Regions from separate parts of the Homo sapiens genome. Here region 1 is linked to region 2. Evidence: fine-mapped expression QTL. Tissue or cell type: whole blood. Region 2 holds a variant in brackets; the other region holds the start of a gene. All regions are shown on one strand. Distances are from middle to middle. Region 1 holds the start of HPSE (heparanase). Region 2 holds the start of COQ2 (coenzyme Q2, polyprenyltransferase).

The links. PIP is the estimated chance that this variant, and not a neighbour inherited with it, causes the effect.
Region 1: it holds the start of HPSE, and the variant in region 2 is fine-mapped to the expression of HPSE in whole blood (TOPMed, PIP 0.92).

The regions. Positions count from the first base shown.
Region 1 is chr4:83,333,226-83,336,132 of GRCh38, forward strand. It overlaps HPSE (heparanase), which reads right to left and starts at 1,623. Exons shown (of 12, transcript NM_001098540.3): 1 at 1,331-1,623. The coding sequence starts at 1,557.
Region 2 is chr4:83,284,198-83,287,048 of GRCh38, forward strand. It overlaps COQ2 (coenzyme Q2, polyprenyltransferase), which reads right to left and starts at 601. Exons shown (of 7, transcript NM_001358921.2): 1 at 315-601. The coding sequence starts at 567. RefSeq lists enhancers at 4-243, 439-733 and a silencer at 304-633. The variant AAAC/A (reference allele first, on the strand shown) is at 1,058.

The sequences.
Region 1 (2,907 bases), 49 kb after region 2:
TCAAACACTGAGAAGCTCTTACCATATCATCAAATCCTCGGGCAATAATCCTTGAGGCAAGCTTGAGAAATTCCATTCTACAGCTGAAGAAATCAAGGTTGGTGTGGCCAAGAGATATGGAAAAACCAAGTCACTCATCTTTGCCAGAGCTGAGAGTCAAGCCAGGATGGTCTGTCCATCTCTTAACCAGTACACTACCCATTAAATTAGCGCTGGCAACTATAGTGTGGGCTCAGGGAGGACAGCATCTAGGTATTTGACACAGAGGTGAGATAATGGTGATCTTTCCCTCTATCTGGGCTGGTCAAGATGTGGCCATCTCTGGAGGCTCCCAGGGCCTAAATAAGAGGCCTAGAAGACCTGGGATTGTCCCTGTAGCTCCCCATCTTGGAGTCAGCCTGCATTCATGGGGCAGGAGCCCTGAACCTGCATCAGGTTCCTTCTTTCTCAGGTAAGGAAAAAACTTAGAGCTGATAAGGCAGCACCACATTTTGCAGCCCCATTTTGGAGAGACATCTTTTTATTAGGACTTTGTAAGTCACTGCAGTAGTCTCCTAGGTCTCATTTATTGAATATTTAGATTTTTATTCCTGTTCTGTGACGCCCTTTTCATCTGCCTAAAAAAAAAAAAAGAAAAGAAAAAAGAAAAAGAAAAGAAAAGAAAGAGAAATCTTCCTAACACAGTCTTAAATACAGAAGGCTATGCACAATCTTACTTGTCCTACACTGCACAGCAAATCAAGCACTCACAGGCCTTCAGGTGCACCTGCCTGGTTTCCCTCCTCTTGGCTAGGGAAGTACTGGGGCAAGTGGGCAGTTTCTTTTTCAAATTTCCACTTATACCTGACCTTAGGTGGTGCCTATTCAACACTTACAGAATGAATGAAACAAAAAGGCTCATTTAGAGTGGGCGCTAAACAATGTGTACACATGGACTTAGTGGAATAGTAGACACTGGAGACTCCAAAAGGTGGGAGGGTGGGAGAGGGATGAGGGATGAGAAATTACCTATTAGATACAATGTACAACATTCGGGTGACAGTTACACTAAGAGCCCAGATGCCACCACAATGCAATATACCCATGGAACAGAACTGCACTTGTAACCCCTAAATCTATTTTTTAAATGATACCCCCCAAAAAGCAGTTTGGGGTCTGAGAGTAAGGGAGGGAGAGGGAGAATGAGAGGCGGGAAGTGGGGTGGGGAGAGACAGGCGGGGAGGTTCCGGTGTGAAGTTGTTTCCGCGCAAAAGAAGGAGAGCGGCTGGCGGGGCAGACATAGGTGTCAGGAGGACAGGAAAGGGGACAGGACCAGGAGGCTGGCGCTTACCCCAGGAGGATGAGGAACCGCGGGTCCGTGGCCAGGTTGGCGTCAATGGTGACGGACAGGAACGAGGGGCTCACCAGGTGCAGCGGCTCCTGGGTGAAGAAGTCCAGGTCCACGACGTCCTGTGCTTGCGCAGGTCGGGGCAGGGCGCCAGGGGAGAGGGGACCCAGCGGCCCCAGGAGCAGCAGCATCAGCGGCGGCGGCAGCGCAGGCTTCGAGCGCAGCAGCATCTTGGGCTCACCTGGCTGCTCCCCCCGCCAGCTGCCGCGCAGCGGAGAGTCGAGAGCTCTAGCACTTCCTCCCGCCGAGCCCCAGCGCCCTTTTCTCCTTTCCTCCGCCCCGTTACGCCTCCTCACCCCTCCCACTGCGCCCTCCATCCCTCCCACTCCTCTTCTGCATCCCTCCCACTGCTCCCAATCCAACCCCGCCCCGCCTGCCCGGCTCTCTCCTACTTCCTTGCTCGCTTTCCCCTCGGTGGCGGTCACGTTCACTTACGAAATCACCCACACCCACTTGAAGGGTGCGGAGATGGCCGGGATCCAAGCGCCCGGGAGGCCTGGGGAGGAGCGCCCGGGGAGGAGCGCCCGGGGAGCAGCGCTGGGCATCCCGGACCAGGCTTCCTGACGCACGTGTTCTGCGCGCTCTCGTGGGAACCCAGCGTTTCCGACTCCCAGATCCCATTCTGATGGCGCCGGGTATCCCTCTGACCCTCGAGTAAAACCTCCAATGGAGTATTCATCCCTTCCTCTCCCATCTAGCTTATAAACACTTGCTTGTCACTTGAGCCAGCCAAAATCTGATTGTCCTCTGGCCAGGCAGTTTCTCAGGTATTTTACTTTTGCTTGAAAAAATCTGGCCTCAGCATACGCTAAACTGCAGCTGGAAAGAGATCAACCACCCAAAATTCTTTATCAACTTCTCATTAAGACAATATTTAGCAATCTTAAAGGGTTAGTTGCTCCAATGTCTGGAACTCAGGACCTGAAGCCCCCATACAAAGTGTAGAGTACGGACTGCCCCTGAATTTGGAGCCTTTGCCAAATTTCTCCTCTGCGCATTTATCTTTCGCTGTTGGTCAGACTTTTCTTCAGCTTTTCCTTGATGCTTACACTGATGTATAATCATAGCAAGCATCGCACGCTTAGTGCCTACTGTATGCCTGATACAGGTGCTTTACTTGTGTTCTCTTCCCTTCTCACAACCCTGCCAAGTGCATACTGTCCTTGTTTTACACATGCGGACCCAAGCTCTGAGACAGTAACTGGGTGAAGTGTCAGAATCGGGATGTGAAGTGTCAGAATCGGGATGTGAATGCAGTTACAAAACCTCGAGCAGATGGCAGTGTGTTTCAGCTGAAATGTAACTTCCCTCAAGGAAGCTTTCTCTCAATCTCCAGGCAGCTCTCCATGACACACTCTCATAGCATCCTCAATTTGTTAGACACTCTCGTAGCATCCTCAATTTGTTAGACACTCTCGTAGCATCCTCAATTTGTTAGTATTGTGATGTTGCTCAACATTGGCTTCATCTACTAGATTATATGCTCCACCAAAACAGAGATTAAGTTTGTCTCACACGCT
Region 2 (2,851 bases):
GCCCGCTTCAGGTGCTCAGGATGCAGACAGACGTGAAACTGGCGGGTCCTTTAGGAGACTGTCCCGACTGCGTGTCCTGAGGTGACTCGCCCCAGGGCGCACGGCAGCCGGCAGCCAAGCTCAAGCTTTCAGGCTCTCATTTCAAAGTGTCCCGAGGTGATTCGCCCCAGGGCGCACGGCACCCGGCAGCCAAGCCCAAGCTTTCAGGTTCTCATTTCCATCACGCCCCGGCCGGCCGCCGCGGACAGCTCCGCGGAGCCGACTCGGAGGCTGCTACTTGCAAATTCCCGGGCTGCCCGCCCGCCCGCACTCACCAATGGGCTTGTCCAACCGCATGAGGCGCAAGTACGGCTGCAGGGGGCGGGGCGCAGAGTCCACCACCGCCGCCGCGGACAAACTGAGCTGGCGCCCGCGCGGCTCGGGACAGGCGGGGGGCTGCAAGTCACCACCGTGGGGCGCGCCTGCCGCACGCGCCAGGGCGAAGGAGCGGCCCCGCCAGCCCGGCAGCCACGCCAGTGCCACAGCCCGCAGGCCCCGCGCGAACCCCGCGGCTCGCGAGCCCAGCATGGCGCTGGTGAGGCCGGGACGAGCTCGGATTGACGTCATTCCCCGGCAGGCATGCGCAGTGGCACCCGCAGGATGCAATCCTAGTCTGCCAGGCTGGGCGGCGGTGTGGGCAGAACCTTTCCTCATCCTTACTTGTGAAATTGGGGTCATCGTGGTCGCTTACTCTAGGGAGGAATACTTAATGAAAAAGGGATTTCTATTGGCAAAAGGCAAAAAAATTACAATAAATTTAGTTGTAATTTTTTACAACTCGATCTTGATTGACTTTGTGGTTCCATTATCGGGCAACACTCAGAACGGGGTCTCTGAGGAAACAAACAAAAAATAGAATCGGGCAACACCTTATTCTGTAAAATAGAATAAGTGTTCCAAAGAGTCGAGCGGAGGAAGTTGGCTTTATAGACAGAAAAAGGGCTGAAGAAAGCAGAAGCAGAGAACAAAAAGCGGATTGGTCACTTCAAATTACTTTCATTGCGAGGCGGGGACAGGG[AAAC/A]AACAACAGAGAAATAACGGATTGGTTAACATTAGGTTACACCAGGTTAAGGACTAAAACAGGAAACTTAATTGTCATGACGATTGCATTTTGAAATGGCCTGGTTGGAAAATTGGCTGTTGTCTCTCTTTCCTGACTTCTCAGAATGTCAGATACAACTTAGTTTTAGTTTGGTGACTTGGAACTTTAGCATGGGTGACTCTTGATTCTTAGTCTGATCTGTTGGGACCTAGTGCAGGAACTTAGTTCAAAACAATGGCCCCCTATAATTTAACCCTATTATCAGCTTTCTCCATAAAATGAAAAGGATAGTGTTTATTCATATGGAACAGTTGTACCAGGAAAAAAAAAAAAAAGCTTTGAAAAACCTACTGAATCCAAAAGAAGAATTTGCGTACACGTTTAGCCATAAAAAAAAAAAAGGGCACCAAGTGGCCACATACAAGACTGTAAATTAAAATCGCATTCAGGGTTAAGGGATGTTCATTACACAAGTGAAAATTTTAAATTTGACAGCCCTTCAAAGGAGTTTTTGTAATCAGTAGACAACCAGCATGTGTGATGCTAAGAACCTGAAGCTGAAAAGTCTGGTCAGCAGAGTCTTGCTCTGTCATCCAGGCTGGAGACCAGTGGAGGGATCATGGCTCACTGCAGCCTCCACCTCTTGGGCTCAATCGATCCTCCCATCTCAGCATTCTAAATATCTGGGACCACAGACACGAGCCACCGTGGCTGGCTAATTTTTAATTTTTCATAGAGAGGAGGTCTCACTATATTGCCCAGGTTGGTCTTGAACAGCTGGGCTAAAGAGATCCTCCTGCCTCAGATGGTCAGTACTCTTATTCATAAGCAACTCTGTATATCGCTGTGTGCCAGGCACTTTACATGTATCAACTCATTTAACCTCTCACTGAGTAACCCTAGGCAAGTCACTCATCTGGATTTTAATATTCTAGGAAGTTGACTTAGTCTTTAGGCTCCTTTCTGTAAAACATGTACAATGATTCTGTGACTTCTTGCATGGCTCAAGTACAGCAAGTTGGATGCCTGGCCACTTTGGTGCAATGAGGCAGGGGGTACCTAGCCTTTCTCCTGCCTGCAAAGAATAAAGGCCAGCAGGCAATTTAGTAACACTCCTAGTTGTTAGATTGGAGATGATTTAGATCTGACTCAAACCTGAAAAGGGTGTAATATCAGTCATGTATTGCATCCATGACTTTCCAATATAGGTCCAAACTCTTTGTTTAAAAAAATATATTAAGAATTTCAAGATGGCAACAGCAGGACATTAAACCAAGTACAAGGTCCTTCTTAGCGTAGGCCCTGGGTGACTGCACATGTACCCATGATGCTGACCCTGCCCAGAGGTGATTCAATCCTAAGATATTTGGTCCAATTAAAGTGCACAGGAAACTGAGATGGGTACCCACATGTCACTCTGCTAATTTGTAGGACAAGAGAACAGTCACATAGAGTAGAGCCCTAACTTTCAGGAGTCTCCTCTAGACTAATGCCAAGGCACAGTATGCCCTTGGGAAAGCCATTTAACTGCTGCAAACTCTTCAGAAAAGGAAGGGACTAGGCTTTCTCTAAAAGGGCCTGTAAGGCTCCGATTCCTCATTTTGTTTTTTGTTTTTTTTGAAGTGACTTTCTTTTTTTTTAAAATTTTATTATTATTATACTTTAAGTTTTAGGGTACATGTACACAACGCCAATTCCTCATTTTGGATTGGGCAGGAACTCATTTTGTTTTAAACCTATTACCCACAGGAACTGAAATGGTTAATTTTA